Regions from separate parts of the Homo sapiens genome. Here region 1 is linked to region 2. Evidence: fine-mapped expression QTL. A gene starts in region 2. The other region holds a variant in brackets. All regions are shown on one strand. Distances are from middle to middle. Region 1 has its middle 14 kb from the start of IUR1. Region 2 holds the start of P2RY2 (purinergic receptor P2Y2).

What was found. PIP is the estimated chance that this variant, and not a neighbour inherited with it, causes the effect.
Region 1: its variant is the best candidate, but not a certain one, in a credible set for the expression of P2RY2 in esophagus mucosa (GTEx, PIP 0.50).

Annotation. Positions count from the first base shown.
Region 1 is chr11:73,194,482-73,198,998 of GRCh38, reverse strand. No RefSeq gene overlaps it. Among named protein-coding and RNA genes, the nearest start is that of IUR1, 14 kb to the right of the region's middle. RefSeq lists an enhancer at 41-335. The variant C/G (reference allele first, on the strand shown) is at 1,858.
Region 2 is chr11:73,216,364-73,220,363 of GRCh38, reverse strand. It overlaps P2RY2 (purinergic receptor P2Y2), which reads right to left and starts at 2,083. Exons shown (of 3, transcript NM_002564.4): 1 at 1,932-2,083. It overlaps LOC124902709 (a long non-coding RNA gene), which reads left to right and starts at 2,171. Exons shown (of 3, transcript XR_007062773.1): 1 at 2,171-2,337. RefSeq lists enhancers at 812-1,530, 1,531-2,249 and a silencer at 1,963-2,172.

The sequences.
Region 1 (4,517 bases), 22 kb after region 2:
TCTGAAATTTACCTATCGGGTGGGTTCTCTCATGGGTTCCCACCATACAGACTGCCAGGGGGTACTGCCCCTTCCATCTCAGTGATTGGAATGCATCCTTTGAGTAACTTCGCCATGGAGAAGTCTGACAATCACTCCCTCTGTCATGTGATCAAGCCTGTTATCAATGGTGATGAGTCATGCTGATGGAATGTTCCCTTGATATAATGCAATGAGAGTGGCACTTCACCTCTGTGACCTTCCTCGCAAGAACTCAACCAAGTCTAATCATGAGAAAACCAACAGCAAAGCCCAAATTAACAGTCTGCACAATACCTGATGATGAATACTCAAAACTCTCAAGATCATCAAAAACCAGGAGAGTCTGAGCAACTCTCTCAGACCAGGAAGAAAGGATGGAGGCATGATGTTTAAGTGTAACGTGGCACCTTGGATGGAATCCTGGGACAGAAAAAGGACATTAGGTAAAAACGAAGGAAATGTAAATAAAGTATGGATTTTAGTTAATAATAATTTACTAATACTGGTTCATTTGCCGTGGCCAATATAAGACGTTAGCAGTAGAGGAAAGTGGGTGAGGATATACGAGAATCCTCTGTACCATCTTTGCAACTTTTCTGTGCATCAAAAACTATTCTTTTAAGAAGTTTGTCTACTTGTTCTAAAATTTTATTTTAAATTATTATCCTTAAAAATTGCTTCCTTAAAATGGCTGTAACAGGCTGTTCAGATAGAGGTGACAATGGGGACATGAATGGGGTGGAGTGTGACCTACTAAACAGTTTGTTGTGTAAGGTATCATTTGTTCTCCAGGTGCTAACTGACTCCAGAGTGAAACATAGGGCCTTGCCTGATCTCCACCCTCCCCTTCTAGTTCCTGACCTGCCTCTTTTTGATAGGCCCCTGACTTGGGGACATCCTTATAGACACCAATATCTTCAATATCTTCAAAAGTGCAGACTATGAGAGTCAGGGTCTGGCCGGGCACGGTGGCTCGTGCCTGTAATCCCAGCACTTTGGGAGGCCGAGATAGTGGATCACCTGAATTCAGGAGTTCGACACCAGCCTGGCCAACATGATGAAACCGCATCTCTACTAAAAATACAAAAATTAGCCGCATGTGGTGGTGTGTGCCTATAATCCCAGCTACCCAGGAGGCTGAGGCAGGAGAATCACTGGAACTTGGGAGGCAGAGGTTGCATTGAGCCAAGAATTGCCACTGCACTCCAGCCTGGGTGACAGAGTGAGACTCTGTCTCAAAAAAAAAAAAAGAGTCCGGGTCTCTCTTCTGTAGCCATAAGATCCTACAGCAGTTCTGCTTCCCAGGCCCTGGATCACACATCTTCCCCAGGGCACTTACACCAGGAAGAACTTTAGATGAGCCATTTCACTGCCTTCCCACAGGGGTGCGGCCTCATGGCCCCATGGTTATGTTCTAAGTCAACAGTAGAATGACATCTTAATCCAGCATAATATCCACTGATGCTCCCGCCCACTAGCCAGGGGCCATTTCCTCCTCTGCTGAGTAGAGAAGGTTGGTACATAAGGGCATCACAGACACCATCAATTTGCTCAGAAGGGCATCACCATGGCTTCGACTGGCAGGATAGTGGTTAAGAGGAATGATTTGGAATAGACAACCCTACATTCAAATCCTGATTCTATCACTTATTCGTTTATTTAAACCCTATGACCCTCAGTTTCCACAACTGTAAAATACAGGTAATAAGGTTCTGGACTATTGAAGGTATTGGTAATCCGGAATGTCACTGGCAGAGGGTCTAAAAGTCTCTCCTCTGTGGTTTCCATCGTTTACCTTTTGAAAGTTGAATCTCCAGGCCAGTGCAGTGTCTCACG[C/G]CTGCAATCCCAACACTTTGGGAGGCCGAGGTAGGCAGATCACTTGAGATCAGGAGTTCGAGACCAGCCTGGCCAACATCGTGAAACCCTGTCTCTACTAAAAATACAAAAATTAGCTGGGCGTGGTGGTGCACACCTGTAATCCCAGCTACTTGGGAGGCTGAGGCAGGAGAATTGCTTGAACCCGGGAGGTGGAGGTTGCAGTGAGCCGAGATTGTGCCACTGCATTGCAGCCTGGGCAACAGAGTGAGACTCTGCCTCAAAAAAAAAAAAAAAAGAAAGAAAGTTGAATTTCCAGTCTCCTGGTGTTTGTGTTCTCTCTGAGTCCTCGAAACTCTCCGACAGTGGTTCTGTGAGCACAGTAGTGGGCTCCGCTGTGGCTAGGGGTGCAATTCAGCTCAAAACTCCTCTGGAGCAGCTGGGGGAAGGCCAGGAGGGTCTGATACTTGCCCATCCTGACATTTTCACCCCTAACCCTCTGTCAGTGACATTCCCTGTCATGTCATTTACCTGAAGGTTTGTGAACCTCTGGCAAGTTGCGGGGAGAAAGTAAGCAGGAGAAAGAAGCAGGGGTTCACTGGCTCACCAGCCTCCCTTCTGTTCTAACAGTGACCAACAGTGGAAAGAGGACGAAGGCTGTCAATGCCATTTTGGGGAATCATATTTGAATGATTACCTTGTGCTAGGAACCTTGAGCCTCCCTTTCCCGAGCCCTTGGCTCCCAGGTCAAGTGGGAGAACTCTTATAATTCTTTTGTGTCTCTGAATCTTGTCTCCATAATCAAACTAGAAATTACCCATAGGACATATTTCCTTCTCTTCTTGACTCTCTTTATCAAATGTGACCTACAAACCTACTGTAAATATCCCCAGAGAGATATATCATTCCCTGGGTAAGGAAAACTATCGTTGCCATTGTCAGTGGTGAGACTCCATAATCACTATCAAGAATCACTACCTTTACCACATCATCAACCATCATAGCAAATTCTGCTCTCCTCAAAGTGCCTTTAATGATAGTTGTAATTTATTGAACACCTAGTATGTGTCAGATACTGAAACAAGGGCTTTCCATGTATAATCTCAATAGAATTATCTAAAGTCCGTGTTCTTAATAAACAACGCTGTTCCAGCCCTGGTCCAGGAGTGTAAAACCCTCCTACCTTTTGCTGGGAGCGTTTGCATGTGCTGTTGTTGCTGTGTTTTTGCCACTGTGAACACTGCACATGGACAGGCCCTAGAAGACCATCCCAGGGTGTGTGGGAGCCCCTGGGGTAGGGGGACAGACCTGGGAACCTGAGCTGGGCACCAAGCATGCCAAAGGTCTCAGCTCTGCCCATGAACTAAGGGCTGGCAATGACCTTGGAACCAGAAGCTGGCATAACCAGAAAATCAGTGAAACTCCACTAGAAGACAGGGACTTTAAACAGGGCTTCAGGCTCCTGTCAAAACTCTTGGATGGAGCTGATAAGAAGTCCACAGCCTGCAGGGAAATGGCACCTGCTCCCAAAGCCACAAGTCCATTAGTGATACAGAAGCCAGCAAAGAAAGAGAGAACTGGCTGGATCTTGAAGCCAGCAGGGGGAGAGGAAAGGATGACAATGGATTTGCCTATGGCCAGACTTGACTCAGACAGTTACTGGTGAGGAGACTGTCACAGAGGAGCACTCAAGGTCTTGTGCATGCCTGTACCCAGCACTCCTTTATATTTTACAGGGCTGTCATCAGGTGACTCATCACTGAAACCGCCCCATGTCTATCCCAGTGCAAACCTGCCCGGAATCAGGCACATACCTACAGAGGCCAGGGAGGTCCAGGAGGTCTAAGACATGAGCCAATGTGACATGAGCTCCTGGAGCCCTCCAGTGTGCCAAACATTAGCCCTTTCATTGAAGGACTGTGAGGAGGCCCAGGCAGTACACCAAGGGGCAGCCAGGGTGCTGGAGCACTTGGAGGTCTCAGGGCTGCTACAGCTGTGCCATTGTGTACTGACTGCACATCAGCTCCAATTATACCCTGGCATCCAGCACTGTGCCTGGCACATAGTAGGTGCTTATTGGGCACACAAATGAGAGGGTGAAAGGTCCCTGCCCTAGAGGCATTCACAGTCTAGCAGGGGAGACATGGCACACTGCAAACCCGTGAAGAATCTTCCCCAGTGGTAGCCTTGGATTTTGGCCATTGGATACCTTGAGGTAGCGAAGTATGTCCAGGACCAGGTGGAGGGTGGTGCGTGGGGGGTGGTGTGAGCGCAGGCTGCAGGGGAATGCTGCGTGCATGCATGCACAGGGCTCAGCTGTCCCAGGAGTGCTAGGGAACTGCATGACTCAGGACAGGGCGGCAGGCTGAAGGAAGGGTGGGACGACCCAGGATAGTGCCAGTGAACCCATGGGGAACCAGTCTCAAACCTGCCTTCCTGCTTCCCTTCCTCCGTCCACAGTTTACTGCTCCGGGCAAAGTCTGCTGCAGTTCACAGAGAAGCAACAGCTTTGATGGCATCTGCAACCTAAGTCATAAAGATCAAAGTGGGATAAAGCTGGAGTGAGTTTCTGAGTTCCAAAAATAAGTAACATCTCAGAGGTTACTTTAAAAAATAGAGGCAGCTCAGTGCAACAGAAGGAGCTTGAGCCTCAGCATTAGACAAATCTGAGTTAAAATCCT
Region 2 (4,000 bases):
AGCCAGAGAGCGCTTTCTGAAATGCCGCTCTGACCATGAAACACCTCTGCTCATAAATTTCCATGGCTCCCTATTGCCTTCAGGATAAAATCTCTAGGTCTTTAGCCTGGGCACTCTAGGTCCTACAGTGTCCCAGATCACACTGTTCTGGCAAACTGTGCCACCCACTTTGATAACCAGATTCTGGTTTGCCCTTCTTTGTAGTGACATGGAGCTCCCCTGCAGCCGGGCCTTTACTGGAGAAGCTGGTGCCAGAGACAGGGGATGGGCGCCACTGCTGCTCTCTCAGTTCAGCTCAGCCCTGTGCAGGGTGCTGGCAACACAGAAATAATAAGACCCAGTTTCTGCCCTCCAGGAGCCCCTAGACCTGGGAAGAGGAAAGGAGGAGACAGACATAGATCATGACGGTTCAGGTGGGACCAGGGCTGTCAGCCCCAGGCCTGTAGGGGCCTAGAAGAGGCTCCAACCCAGCTGTAGGGATCAAGGAAGGCTTTCCAGAGGAGAGGACATCTGAGCTGGGTCCCAAGTCTGGGTAGTTCTCCAGTTGAGGAAGGTGAGAGTAGGAGGGCTTATCAGAGAGGGAGTGTAGAATATGCAACAGGCCAGGGGCAAGAAATGAGAGACTCCAGGCAGCTGCTGCAAGGTAAAGAGTCAGGCGGGAGAGGTGGCTGGAAAGGCTGGCAGGCCCCAGTTATCAAATACCTTAAGTCCCAGGCTACAGGGTTCAGGCTTGGTCCTGTGGAAGGCTTGTGCCCTAGGGAGGGGCACAGTTGGGATTCTGGTTCTGGGAGGCTCCTTCCAGGGACTGACTTCCCATCCCCAAGCTGTGAGCCTGCCCATGGGGGGACACTGGTGCTGAACATGACACACTCATCAGCTCCTCAACAGCCCTCAAATTCCTTATCATTAGTCCCTTCTTACAGACGAGGCCACTGAGGCTCAGAGAAAGGACGGCTTGCCCAGGCCACACAGTGGCCAAGACAGGATTGGAACATAGATCTCTGAGTCTCCAGAGCTCTCTTGTGGACCTGTCTGCTCAGAGAATCTTCTTCCTTCCACTTCCACCCACAGGTAATAAACTTGCCTGGGTCTCCACCCAGATCCTCAAAACTCATAATTATTTCAGCTTAGATCCAAAACAAACCAGGCAGATCAGGCTGTGGTCCTGGGAAGCTGGGGATGCCATGCTGAGAGGAACAGCAGCCATGGACCCCACAAATCCCGAGCTGGCAATTCTGGTCTCCAGCAGTCCCCAACCCTTGGGCTGCGCTCCTGGAGGACCCCAAGAGGGCCACTGGCAGCCTTCGGGTTGGGGGGTGGGGTATCGCCTTTCTCCTGACTGACCCTTTCTACCGCACCATTTGCCAGATTAAAAGCCCGGGGACAGAGGCTTAACTGTCCTTTCTGGCCACTCCCTCCTCCCCCGCCCACTCCCTGCAACTGCCCCCTCAACATTACCAATGGTAGGTGGCCACCCAGAGTGACCCTGGGGTTAGGACAGTGGTAGGGGGTCTCCAGGGGTTCGCGTCTCTGGGCACCGGCCACCGCCTCACGCCACGGGGACGCTCACATCGGAGCACACACAGACAAGTTCCGCAGGCTTGGCCAGTCGCCCCGAGGGGCGCACACACTCACCCGCTAACACGCAGACCTCCCCAGTACGCTGACGCGCACAGCCTCACTACTGGGGCGCCCGTCCACACTCACCGAGACCGACGCTCCCGTGGAGACAAAGTTCAACCACGGACCCACAGGCGCGTTCAAGCCGTCCAGTTATGCGCTACACGCCGGCTCGCAACTGTGCCCCGGGGCGACAGCCGCTCCACAGCGCCCTCCCCTGCCCCGCGCCCAGTCCGCACCTGCGCCAGTCTGGCCCGCCGCTTCCCCGGGCCTCTCCCAGCGCCTTGTTCCCTCCAGACGCCCCACCCCACCTCTCGCCACTGCGCTGCGCTTCTCCTCTCAGGGTGCCGTCGCCGCCGCTCCCGGGTGCCAGTGCCCGGGTCCCGCCGCAGCCGCAGAGACCCACGTGCCTGGGAGCCCGGCTACCCACCTCCCTGCGCTGTTCCCCAACCCCGAAGCCGGGCCAGGCAGGGGGCGGGGCGGACTTTTGACTGACCCTGGCACCGCCCTCAACCCGCCCGGGTAGACACCGCGCCACCCGCTCCGGGACGCCGCCCAGCGACAAGGCCGCGGGGTCAGCGTGTCTGTACCGGTGCTGCAACGGGAGGGTCGGGCGGCGACGCTCTCACTGCCGGGCCAGAAGGAGGCCTCCCGGCTCCCTCACGCTAGAAGGGAGCTGGTTACCAGAGGTTTTCAGAGACGCCAAAGTTTTGCCAGGTCAGCCCGGTGCCTGCGTGGCCCACTGCGGGACCTTTGCGCCCAGCCACCGCGCCACCCTACCCCTGTCCCGCCCCTGCCCCAGCCCGGCTGGCCAGGAAGGGACCTACTGGGAGATACCTGCTCGGAACCCCAGGCTAAGGACGTACCTCCCTTGCTTGAAAGTGGGGGAAGGGGGTGCCTCTCTCCATTACCGTGGTTAGGAAAGCAGGGTACTCAGGATCCCGCCTCTCCCGTGCTCCCCACTTTCCCTGCCTTAATCTTATCAGCAGCTCCCTGAACTCCCCACTCTGGCCCCTTATCTTGAGCTGCTTTACCTCTCTTCTCTGTCGTCAACCCCACTCTAATGGCCTTCCCTGGTCGGGCTACCGGCTGCATGTCTGACCCGTTCGGAGACTGTGAGCTCCCGAGGGCAGGAACCAGGTCTGCCTTCTTCCTGCTGCTGTCCTAGAGGTCCTGGGAGGTGCTCAATCCTTGAAGGTGTGAATGGATGAATGAATGAGCACCCCGCCTCTCTCTCATTTCTGGTCTAGGAATCAGGAGTGTAGGTTCCTGTCTGGCTTCAGCACTGACTCTGGGAGACCTTGACCCAGTTCCATTCCCTGGCAGGGTCTTCTTTCCTGTGAAATGGAGCCAATCGCTCCGCTGGCTGGACAAGTGCAGAGGAGGCCTCTTCCTGTAGCCAAGGAACTTGCCCCGGGCCTTCGGGGCCTTGGGCCCTCTTGGGCTCCATATCAGCTGACTGGGCCTGGCTGCCAGGAAGGGTGCTGGCTGCAGCCCCACCAGGAGCAGTAGCAGAGTGGACACACAGCCCATAGTGGCTGAGCCGCCTCTGCAGTCCTGCTGGGGCCTTTGCTTGGGAGACACAAAGGCCCCTTGTCTAGCCTCCTGCGCCTATTGTCTAAGCTGGGCCACGCACCTTCCAGGGACCTAAGTATCCTCATAGCCCGAGTTATAGGGCCTAGGCCTTCAGGTTCCAGTGTGGGGAAGACCCTTTGGGCACTGGAACTCCAGCCAACCCTCTCTTTCTCTCCCCTCTTCCAAAACTTCAAACCTTATACTGTCACTGCCATTTAGCCCAGGAGAAACAAGTTTCTTTGACGCCAAGTTGAGGACCCAGGCTCGACCTTAGCCTTCAGCGGGCAAATCTGGTTGGTGGCCTGCCCAGGGCTCTGCCCCTGCTCTGGCCCAATTCCCTTACTTTACAGCTGAGGAAACTGCATTCCTGAGACATACAGCGTTTCAGCTACCACACAGGTGACTTAGTGAGGCTTGAGGAGCAGAGGAAGGGGCCTAGTCCTTGAACCCCATAGCCTTGGGTTTAGATTCCAGTCTTACCTCACCTGTCCTATGACTCCTCTCTGAGCCTGAGTTTCCTCTTTTGCAAAAGGGAGTAATACTAATCTCTCACTTGCTGGCCTGTCTTAAATTTTTTGAGAAAGGGCCTCACTCTGTCACCCAGGCCGTAGTGCAGTGGCATGATCACAGCACACTACAGTCTCTATGTCCCAGGGCCAAGGGATCCTCCCATCTCAGCCTCCCAAGTAGCTGGGAATACAGGCACATGCCACCATGCCGGGCTAATTTGTAAATTTTTTGTAGAGATGGGATCTCCCTGTGTTGACCAGGCTGGTCTCAAACTGCTGAGTCCAAGCAGTCCTCC